Linked DNA regions of Homo sapiens. The protein of the gene in region 1 purifies or fractionates together with the protein of each later gene. This does not show direct contact. Each region holds a gene or a part of one and is shown on either strand. Other genes may lie near its edges.

Region 1 (2,916 bases):
CCCATTTTTGAAAACATTTTCAATCATATTTCTTGAGACTCATTGGAAATATGTGAGCTAAAAAGGAAATACTAAATTGATTTTAGAGATGAAAAAAAAATCTTCAGCAGCAGTGACTTGCCCATAGTTCAAAAAGCAAAAATTTACAAGTGGTGGAAGCAAAAGTAGAATGCTGCTGTTGTGACTCCTAGGTCAGCGGTCTTTGTTGAAGCAATGGAGTAATAAATCAAACGACTAATTAAAAACAAAACAATGAAAAATCCATGATGCTTATGAACAACGTTAGGGCAATGAATTTGAAAACAAAAAAAGGGAAGTCTATTTTAAAATAGAACTCAAAAGTAACTCAAGGAATTGTTAATTTTTTAAGTAAATGAATACATCTATAACTTTTAAAACACCACACAATTAGAATTTTATAGAGAATACAGTAAATGAAACAACAACAACAAAAACAGGCAAAATAATACCAAAATAGATTTTTTTTTTAAATGAAGATGTTAGCAAACCAACTCCTTTAAAATAACAAAAGTAAACATCAACAAGTCAGTTTAATCACAGGATGGCAAGATTTCATCTCAAAATCATCACATTACCATTAGAGAAAATCCATGTGAAAATTTGAACTGATACTGAAAAATAGTTTGAAAAAATTCAATACGAATTATTGCCTAAAAAACAAAGACATTAACAATATAGAAACCAAAGCTCAAGAACTTGTACACACTGCAAAAGGGTATGTACCAAAAATCTACACCAGTTACTATACTTATTAATGAATACTTGGAAGCACTCCCTTTAAAAGCAGGAATGGAAGAAACAAAATTTTTACTGTTCTAAGATGATATTTACATGAACAATTTTATAGAATCTAGAAACAGTTGTTCTCAGATGACATCTACATCTACATGGATAATTTTATAGAATCTACAAACATACCATTGAAAGTAGTGAGAAAATTTAGCACAGTTACTGGATATAAGATCAATATCTAAAATCAGAATACCAACATTTAAAAAGTGTTATTAAATTTAGAATGTAATTCAACAAGTTATAACAGTCCTATGAAATAATATCACAAGAACTGTGTAAGATTTTATAAAGAAAATAATATTTTCTAATATGTTGGGAAAATCCCAAGTAAATGGAGAGAAGATGTTCACGCACAGAAAATGCAATCAATATCATTGCTCCAAATTATGTGAATCGGAAGCAATCTGTATTACAATCCAAATAGATGTGCTCATGGAACTTGACAAATTAATTTTAAGATTTATATGAACACCAGATGCTAGAATAGACAAGATCTTTTTGACAGATGTATATTTTAGTTTTGGTGCAGAAACAATGGAATAGAATAGAGTTTAGAATTAGATCGAAACACACAGATTACACGTTTATGTCTTGATGTGTGGTTAAATTTGTATTATAATCAGTGGAATATAAACCAGTATTGTGGAACAGATTATCCATAAATAATAAAACTGTGCTCAGACACAAAATTAATTCCTATATGGATTAAAGATTTAATGTGTAAAAGTAAAAAATGTCAAATCTTTCTAGAAAAATATAGGAGGATGTGTTCATAATTGTGTATAAGGGGAAAATTTCTTAAAAGTACAAAACATAGAGAAAAGATTGATGTGTTCGACCATAATAAAAATAGAACTTTCTGTTCATTAAATCATACTAGAAACAAACAAACCAATAACCTGATGTGCTAGTTGTTTAGTTCTTATAACTGATTAAAGATTACTAACAAAATAGTTGTACAATTGCCAAATGTATAAAGTAAAAGAACAGCTCATTCTTACAAAAAGAAATATGAATGGCCAAAAAGTTGTAAAAGTTCCCTTAGGTTCAAAGAAATGCAAACTAAAAACAAAATACCAATTTACCCTACTCAGTATGATTAAATTTTTTTAAATGGTGATGACATCAACTCTGAAAGGCATATGGAGCAATTAAAACACTTAAACTGCTAGTAGGCTGTAAATTGGTAAAAAATGTTTTTAAAAGCAATTTAGAAATACCTGTTGTGGTTGAAGACAAAAGTAACCAATATCCCAATATTTCCACCTGTTGCAGCATTATATGTAATAGGGAAAAATTGAAAGTAATATACCCATTTGGAATACATATAGTCACTATACTGAAGTGAGAATAAATTAACCAGAGCTGTACAAATAAAATAGTAAACCTATGTTCTTATACTTTGTTGCCTTTCTTTTGATGTTTAACAATAGGCAAATCAATGCTGTATGTTGTTTAAATAATTGTGAATATGAAATAAAAACTATACCAAAAATATTGGATGAGACTTCCACTTTCATGGTTATGTTCCTGTAGATAGCAGACTAATTGATATAGGACATCAGTATGCTAAGTAAATTGAGGTAAAGATACTCTTAAATGCATTACTGTGTTCCCAAGGAAGTGAAGGAAATACCCAGAATACCCAGGTCTTTCTTCTAACGCACACACACCCCAAAGATACAAATGAAAACAGAAAAGGAGAGTGCACTGAGGAAAATATAGATACCATATGATACTGGGAGATTAGACCCTGATCATCACAAATTGAAACTGTAAATGCAAGATGCCTGAAATAAAGTTTATATCCTTGGTGAAAGGATGGGCAGAGTAAAACTAGATAGATTGATAAATGATTGATTAATGGGTGGACAGATAAGAGAAACCTTCATTACTTTAGAGAGAACAGATGAAAAAGAAAGACTCTGCTATTGCCTGAGGTGAAATGAATTGACTAAAATAATAACAGTCATGCCATTATCATCAACATTTACTTTGGGAATGTGTACCCATACACTTGGTTTCACATAGCTACCCTACCCTGCCAGTCAGAGAAACTTTGACCTGAGAATTTCATAATGTATTGAAAATGATATTGTACCT
Region 2 (3,654 bases), about 38 Mb from region 1:
ATACAAAAAAAAAAAAAAAAAAAAAAAATAGCCTGGCATGGTGGCACGCACCTGTAATCCCAGCTACTCGGGAGACTGAGGCAGGAAAATCTCTTGAACCTGGGAGGCAGAGGTTGCAGTGAGCTGAGATTGCACCACTGCACTCCAGCCTGAGAGACAGAGTGAGACTCTATCTCATGCTTTCCATTGCTGAATGCAGACTTCTATATAGGTCCTTTAGATCTAGCTTATGACTTCTTGCTCGGATAATTTTTTGTTTGGTCTCTCAATTTCTGAGTAAAATATCTTAAAATCTCCTGCTCTGAATGGATATTTATCCCTTGTTCCTTGCAATTCTGTAAATTTTGTTTTTAATATTTTGAGGCTATGTTATTGGGAACATATAAGTGCATAATATTATATTTTATTGGATTGTTCTTTTATTATTAAGTAATAATCTTCATTTCTGAAAGTTATCTTTGTCTTAAAGCCTTTTGTCTGACATTAATAGGGCTTTAGTCCTCCTTTGTCAGCATTTTCCTGACGTACCCTCTCTACTCTTTATTTACTAGCATGTGTTATTAAATTGTACCCATTACAGGCAGCACAAAGCTAAAAGACAAAAATGAAAGAAGCAACAATGATATAATGATCTTCAAGGGTTTGATAATATCTTGGAACTAAACTTCCAGACACTAATAATAGGGGAGATTATTTCTTTTGTTTTTGTTTTTACAATCTATGCAAATTAAACCCTATTAATATAATTAACAAATTTTTTCACCATTGCTACTTGATTTCCTGTTCTTCCTTCTGGATTCATTTTCCTTCTTACAGAAATACATCTTTTAGTACTTTTTCAGAAAGGGTTTATGAGTGACAAATTTTTCTCAGACTTTGTCTAAAACCATTTCTGTTTCACCTCCATGCTTGAATGGGATGCTTGACACTTGTTTTCCTTAGTTCTGCTGTCTTCTTACCTGTTGTTGCTGATGAGAAGTCTCTGTCAGTTATTGATTTTTTGTTGTTAATGATCTGTTTTCTGTTTGCATGCATGAATTTTGTTTGTTCATTTTCTTTTGATTTCCCTTTCAGTGGCTTTTAAGACTTTCTCTTGGTTCATAGTATCCTTCAGTTTCTCTTTGATGTATCTGTGTATAGAATTCTTTTTTTCTATGATTTTTTTATTATACTTTAAGTTCTAGGGTACATGTGCACAACATGCAGGTTTGTTACATATGTATACATGTGCCATGTTGGTGTGCTGCACCCATTAACTCGTCATTTACATTAGGTATATCTTCTAATGCTATCCCTCCCCACTCCCCCCACCCCACGACAGGCCCTGGTGTGTGATGTTCCCCACCCCGTGTCCAAGTGTTCTCATTGTTCAGTTCCCACCTATGAGTGAGAACATGTGGTGTTTGGTTTTCTGCTCCTGTGTTCGTTTGCTCAGAATGATGGTTTCCAACTTCATCCATGTCCCTACAAAGGACATGAACTCATCCTTTTTTATGGCTGCATAGTATTCCATAGTGTATATGTGCCACATTTTCTTAATCCAGTCTGTCATTGATGGACATTTGGGTTGGTTCCAAGTCTTTGCTCTTGTGAATAGTGCCACAATAAACATATGTGTGCATGTGTCTTTCTAGCAGCATGATTTATAATCCTTTGGGTATATACCCGGTAATGGGATGGCTGGGTCAAATGGTATTTCTAGTTCTAGATCCTTGAGGAATCACCACACTGTCTTCCACAATGGCTGAACTAGTTTACAGTCCCACCAACAGTGTAAAAGTGTTCCTATTTCTCCACATCCTCTCCAGCACCTGTTGTTTCCTGACTTTTTAATGATCGCCATTCTAACTGGTGTGAGATGGTATCTCATTGTGGTTTTGATTTGCATTTCTCTGATGGCCAGTGATGATGAGCATTTTTTCATGTGTCTGTTGGCTGCATAAATGTCTTCTTTTGAGAAGTGTCTGTTCATATCCTTTACCCACTTTTTGATGGGGTTGTTTGATTTTTTTCTTATAAATTTGTTTAAGTTCTTTGTAGATTCTGGATATTAGCCCTTTGTCAGATGAGTAGATTGTAAAAATTTTCTCCCATTCTGTAGGTTGCTTGTTCACTCTGATGGTAGTTTCTTTTGCTGTGCAGAAACTCTTTAGTTTAATTAGATCCCATTTGTCAGTTTTGGCTTCTGTTGCCATTGCTTTTGGTGTTTTAGTCATGAAGTCCTTGCCCATGCCTATGTCCTGAATGGTATTGCCTAGGTTTTCTTCTAGGGTTTTTATGGTTTTAGGTCTAAGATGTAAGTCTTTAATCCATCTTGAATTAATTTTGTATAAGGTGTAAGGAAAGGATACAGTTTCAGCTTTCTAGATATGGCTAGCCAGTTTTCCCAGCACTATTTATTAAATAGGGAATCCTTTCCCCATTTCTTGTTTGTCTGTTTGTTTGTTTGTTGTTGTTGTTGTTGTTGTTGTTTGAGATGGAGTCTCGCTCTGTTGCCTAGGCTGGAGTGCAGTGACGCGATCTCGGCTCACTGCAAGCTCCACCTCCCAGGTTCACACCATTCTCCTGCCTCAGCTTCCCTAGTAGCTGGGACTACAGGTGCCCGCCACCACATCTGGCTAATTTTTTTGTATTTTTTAGTAGAGACAGACAGGGTTTCACCATGTTAGCCAGGATGGTCTTGATCTCCCGACCTCGTGATCCACCCACCTCGGCCTCCCAAAGTGCTGGGATTACAGGCGTGAGCCACTGCGCCTGGCCCCATTTCTTGTTTTTGTCAGGTTTGTCAAAGATCAGATGGTTGTAGACATGTGGTGTTATTTCTGAGGGCTCTGTTCTATTCCATTGGTCTATATCTCTGTTTTGGTACAGTACCATGCTGTTTTGGTTACTGTAGTATAGTTTGAAGTCAGGTAGCGTGATGCCTCCAGCTTTGTTCTTTTGGCTTAGGATTGTCTTGGCAATGCAGGCTCTTTTTTGGTTTCATATGAACTTTAAAGTAGTTTTTTCCAATTCTGTGAAGAAAGTCATTGGTAGCTTGTTGGGGATGGCATTGAATCTATAAATTACCTTGGGCAATATGGCCATTTTCACAATATTGATTCTTCCTATCCATGAGCATGGAATGTTCTTCCATTTGTTTGTGTCCTGTTTTATTTCACTGAGCAGTGGTTTGTAGTTCTCCTTGAAGAAGTCCTTCACATCCATTGTAAGTTGGATTCCTGGGTATTTCATTCTCTTTGAAGCAATTGTGAATGGGAGTTCACTCATGATTTGGCTCTCTGTTTGTTTGTTATTGGTGTGTAGGAATGCTTGTGATTTTTGCACAGTGATTTTGTATCCTGAGACTTTGCTGAAGTTGCTTATCAGCTTAAGAACATTTTGGGCTGAGACGATGGGGTTTTCTAAATATACAATCATGTCATTTGCAAACAGGGACAATTTGACTTCCTCGTTTCCTAATTGAATACCCTTTATTTCTTTCTCCTGCCTTATTGCCCTGGCCAGAACTTCCAACACTATGTTGAATAGGAGTGGTGAGAGAGGGCATCCCTGTCTTGTGCCAGTTTCCAAAGGGAATGCTTCCAGTTTTTGCCCATTCAGTACGATATTGGCTGTGGGTTTGTCATAAATAACTCATTATTTTGAGATGCC
Region 3 (4,142 bases), on another chromosome or scaffold:
TCTCCATTGTCCAGGGGCCGGGCCGCAGCACCCTCCTTGTCCGAAAGCGCGTGGTGCGGCTCCCGTCTCAGTCTCGAGTCGGGCTAGGCAACCGCGTGACTCAGTTCCCGCCACGCTGGAGCCCCCTCCTTCCTGCTGGATTATTCAGTTTCTCAGTCACTTATTCAGTTTCTCAGTCACCTCCCTGGGAGAGTTTGGGAAAGTAAGGAACGGCCGGGAAACGCGCCATAAAGGAGCCTCACCAAGCTCCACTGGGCAAAGGGAGGAATGGGAGCCCCAAATGCGGGGCTGTCAATTGGGTTGTAGGTGCGGGATGGAAAAGGGAGGATCTGCAGCCCGCATGCGCGCACACACGCTCAACGCTAGCCCCCCATCGGCCAGAGCGCTCGCAATCTCCAGGCAGCTTCTCCACCGTCCAGAAAGGGACGAAAGCAGGCAGGCCCCCACACGTGGGGTAGGAGTGAGGCTCCAGGCCCGTTCTACCCCTCTCAGCCTCGTCTAGGGTGCAGCTCTCTGCGATTTGGGGGGTTCCTTTCCCCAGCATTGAGGCCTGCCCACTCCCAACCCACAACGACCGCGCTCTGGCACTTCTCAGTGCCAGGCTAGCGCTCGGCCCTAGCATCTGCGTGGACAAGCCCTTCCCTGTGATCCCTGGTGACCACCCCACAGCTCTAACAACGCTGATGTTCCCGCCGCCCTCCCCTTTCCCAGGTGACTTCTGGTGATCCCCCTACAGGGTGATACCCGGCAACTCTCACCGCCCCCTTGACCCTTTGACTTCCATCAACCCCAGACCTGCCGTGTTGACCCCCACAGCCCCTAGACTGCCTCCTGGTGACTTCCATACTGGAGAAGGCCTCTGTCTTGCACGCTCCTTTGCAGAGGCCTGACGACCCCTGGGGAAGAGTGGGGGGAGAGCGGAAGAATGGGTTAGCCCCCAAAATCAGGCAGGACCAGCCCTGGAAGTAGGAATCCGGATCCTAAGCGTGCGCCCAGGCCGGGAGCGTGAGCTCTTGCGTCCTGGGTTGAGTTCTGGCGGCCCTCCCCCAAGGTTCCCGGAGCCGCCCCGGTCACGTGGCCGGCGGGGCCGGCAGGTAACTCGCCTGGAGAGGGCGTGGGCCGGTAGCCGCCCCGCCCCGCGGGGCGCCACGGGCGGGTCTTGGCAGCGCCCACTGAGCCAGCCGGGCCGCAGGTGCCGCCCCCGATACACGGTGTCCCGCCCAAGCTGATCCGCGTCTGCGGTCGGTCGGTGCGTGCGTGCGCCTCGTCGGTCCGCGTGTCTGGCCGAGAGCCCCCTTCCTCTGCGGCCATGACTCCGCCGCCGCCGCCGCCCCCTCCCCCGGGCCCTGACCCCGCGGCCGACCCCGCCGCGGACCCCTGCCCCTGGCCCGGATCACTGGTCGTCCTCTTCGGGGCTACGGCGGGTGCGCTGGGACGGGACCTGGGCTCGGACGAGACCGACTTAATCCTCCTAGTTTGGCAAGTGGTTGAGCCGCGGAGCCGCCAGGTAGGGTGGAAAAGAGGCGGTGAGGTCCCCAGGGAGCTTCCGGGGTCGAGGGGCGCGGCTGATCGGTTTCCCCCGCCGCTCACAGGTGGGGACGCTGCACAAATCGCTGGTTCGTGCCGAGGCGGCCGCACTGAGTACGCAGTGCCGCGAGGCGAGCGGCCTGAGCGCCGACAGCCTGGCGCGGGCAGAGCCGCTGGACAAGGTGCTGCAGCAGGTGAGCGCCGGGGTGGGTGGCGGCATGGCCTGGACGTGAGGACATTTCTGGGCGGGATTGGCGGCCGGAGGCTAGGCCTGGCGTGCCGCAACCAACCGGTCCAGGCGGCAGGACTGGGCTCTTGTTTGAAACTTTGAGCGACTCTCGCGTGTGCGTGCCCCTTTCATCCGCGCGTGCCAGCCATTCCCCTGGGCTCCTTACTTTTCAACCATTGCAGGAACCTACTCCTACCGAAGGGATCGGGACGCAGGCTTTGGGATCCATCCCCAGTTCCCGCCCGGGGAGCGAGGCCGAGACGCCTTTGGGAGACCTGCTGGGTCAGGTCTCCCTGAGCCGCAGCCGGAAGCGAAAGGGGTCGAGGGGCCCATATAGGTCACCTGTCCTTGCGGCCCGCGTCTTCGGCCTGCTTGGGAGCTGCTGGAGCGGAGGCGTAGGGCGGTGTCGGCCCTAGAGGTAGACGCCGCCAGGTGTAAACTGCTCGTCTAGGCCTGTCCCGGCCGGCTGGCCAGGCGTGGGCGCTGTCCCGGCCTGGCCTGGGGGACTATCTGCCTGCTGAGTGCAAAGGCCTGGGGTGCCTCCTGCCCTAGCTGAAGTGGGAGGTGGTTTCCATTGCTGTTTTCTTTTCCTTATCTTCACTACGGCGCTCATTCTATGTCTGACTCTTGAGTGTAATTAGTGTAAGTCCTTTTTATACACTCACGTTCTTTCATCTTCCAACAACTCTTGTGGTTCCTGATGAGGAGGCACCACGATGATGATTCCTTGTCTGTTCCAGAAGGGCTCCCGGCCCTTCACTTGGGGAGTTTGCTGGAGGAGAGCTGGGTTGCCTTGCTCTGTCAGCCCCAAGTTGTAAAGTGTCACAGAATTGGCAGGGAGGGTTCGTGGGTCACTGATTAGTGTTTATACTTCTCCAGCAAGGATGGAGGCTGGGGGAGGGCTGGGCAGCCTCAGGAGTGCCACCCCCTCTATGAGCAAACAGCTCAGTGCCAGCCGGTCAATAGGATGTGGGTCAAAGCTCATGCTGCCCCTGATGTCCAAGTGTGGAGCTCTGTCCTTGGAGTTTCTCTGCCCCTCGGTTGGTCAGACCTGGAGGCGGGGCTGCCATTGACCATGAGCCTTCTGGGCCTCAGGCAGGCCTGGGCCTCCCCCACCTGTCTGAGGGTGGTACCCGGTCAAAGACAGGTTTAACCTGCTTTGCCCCGCCCCTTCCCACCTGCTTGTCCCACTCCAGGTGTTTGCTCTGGCCCCACTCCAAACTCCTGGAGTGTGTGTGTTGAGGGCTTCGGTTATATGTGATTGCCCTCATTTGGCCTGGAGGAGGTGACAGTGGACTGGAACAGGGTTGGGGGGTGAGGGGAAGGGACATAGGGCTAGGCTCAACAGGCGTGGCCTCTTATTCCCAGGCAGGATAGGGCTGAACATCTGGCTGAACCAGCTTTGCAGCCTGCCTCCTTCCTCCTACCCTCACTTCCTGCCTGCCCAGCTGTGAATCTGTGTGTTTCTCTCTCCCCATTCCCTATCCCCAGTTCTCACAGCTGGTGAACGGGGATGTGGCTTTGCTGGGCGGGGGCCCCTACATGCTCTGCACTGATGGGCAGCAGCTATTGCGACAGGTCCTGCACCCCGAGGCCTCCAGGAAGGTATGCTCCTGAAGGAAAACCGGGTGGGGTGGGGTGGTCAGTAAGGTTCCCAGAACCCCTCTTGTCCTGAGGGTGGGCAGGGCGCTCATCCTCAATCCTATGTGCCCCCAGAACCTGGTGCTCCCCGACATGTTCTTCTCCTTCTATGACCTCCGAAGAGAATTCCATATGCAGCATCCAAGCACCTGCCCTGCCAGGGACCTCACTGTGGCCACCATGGCACAGGGTATCTGTGACCCAGCAGGGTTAGGGTGGAGAAGCCACTGTGGGTACATGTGTCTGAGTATGTGCATGCTGTGGGTGGGTAATATGGACACATACAAGACTGCGTTATCTGCTAAGTCCCTGAGTGTACTGTGTCTTCGTGTCTGTGCTAGGATGAGTTTGGAATGTGGGTATGTGTCTGTCTATGTCTGGACTGGGAATCTGTATGTGCACACATGAACTGGGCCAAAACAAATGTGTATGCTGGTCTCCAGCATGTGTCTATGGAGGGGAGTTGGGCCCAGGAGTAAACAGGATTAGTGCTTATGCTAAGATGTCTTCACTGTCACTTCTCTGCCCATAGGTTTAGGACTGGAGACAGATGCCACAGAGGATGACTTTGGGGTCTGGGAAGTCAAGACAATGGTAGCTGTTATCCTCCATCTACTCAAAGAGCCCAGCAGTAAGGTTTCCCTCACTGCCTGTCACCTGTTCTCAGGGATGACAAATGCCTATTGCTCCTCCCCACTGTGACCTTCTCTAAGAGACCACGGGGGAATCCTCTTTGTCATTTCTT

What was found.
Region 2: the proteins of ATXN7L3B (region 1) and OAS3 fractionate together in Homo sapiens (co-fractionation; one large-scale study listed by BioGRID). This does not show direct contact.
Region 3: the proteins of ATXN7L3B (region 1) and ESRP2 fractionate together in Homo sapiens (co-fractionation; one large-scale study listed by BioGRID). This does not show direct contact.

The regions. Positions count from the first base shown.
Region 1 is NC_000012.12:74,543,121-74,546,036, forward strand, and holds the end of ATXN7L3B (ataxin-7-like protein 3B), read left to right. Parts: 3' UTR 1-2,310; downstream 2,311-2,916.
Region 2 is NC_000012.12:112,951,836-112,955,489, forward strand, and holds part of OAS3 (2'-5'-oligoadenylate synthase 3), read left to right. Parts: intron 1-3,654.
Region 3 is NC_000016.10:68,233,213-68,237,354, reverse strand, and holds the start of ESRP2 (epithelial splicing regulatory protein 2), read left to right. Parts: upstream 1-1,227; 5' UTR 1,228-1,309; coding exon 1,310-1,507; intron 1,508-1,592; coding exon 1,593-1,721; intron 1,722-1,732; exon of another isoform or gene 1,733-2,174; intron 2,175-3,247; coding exon 3,248-3,361; intron 3,362-3,472; coding exon 3,473-3,587; intron 3,588-3,855; exon of another isoform or gene 3,856-3,929; coding exon 3,930-4,028; intron 4,029-4,142. UniProt on the Homo sapiens protein: mRNA splicing factor that regulates the formation of epithelial cell-specific isoforms. Specifically regulates the expression of FGFR2-IIIb, an epithelial cell-specific isoform of FGFR2.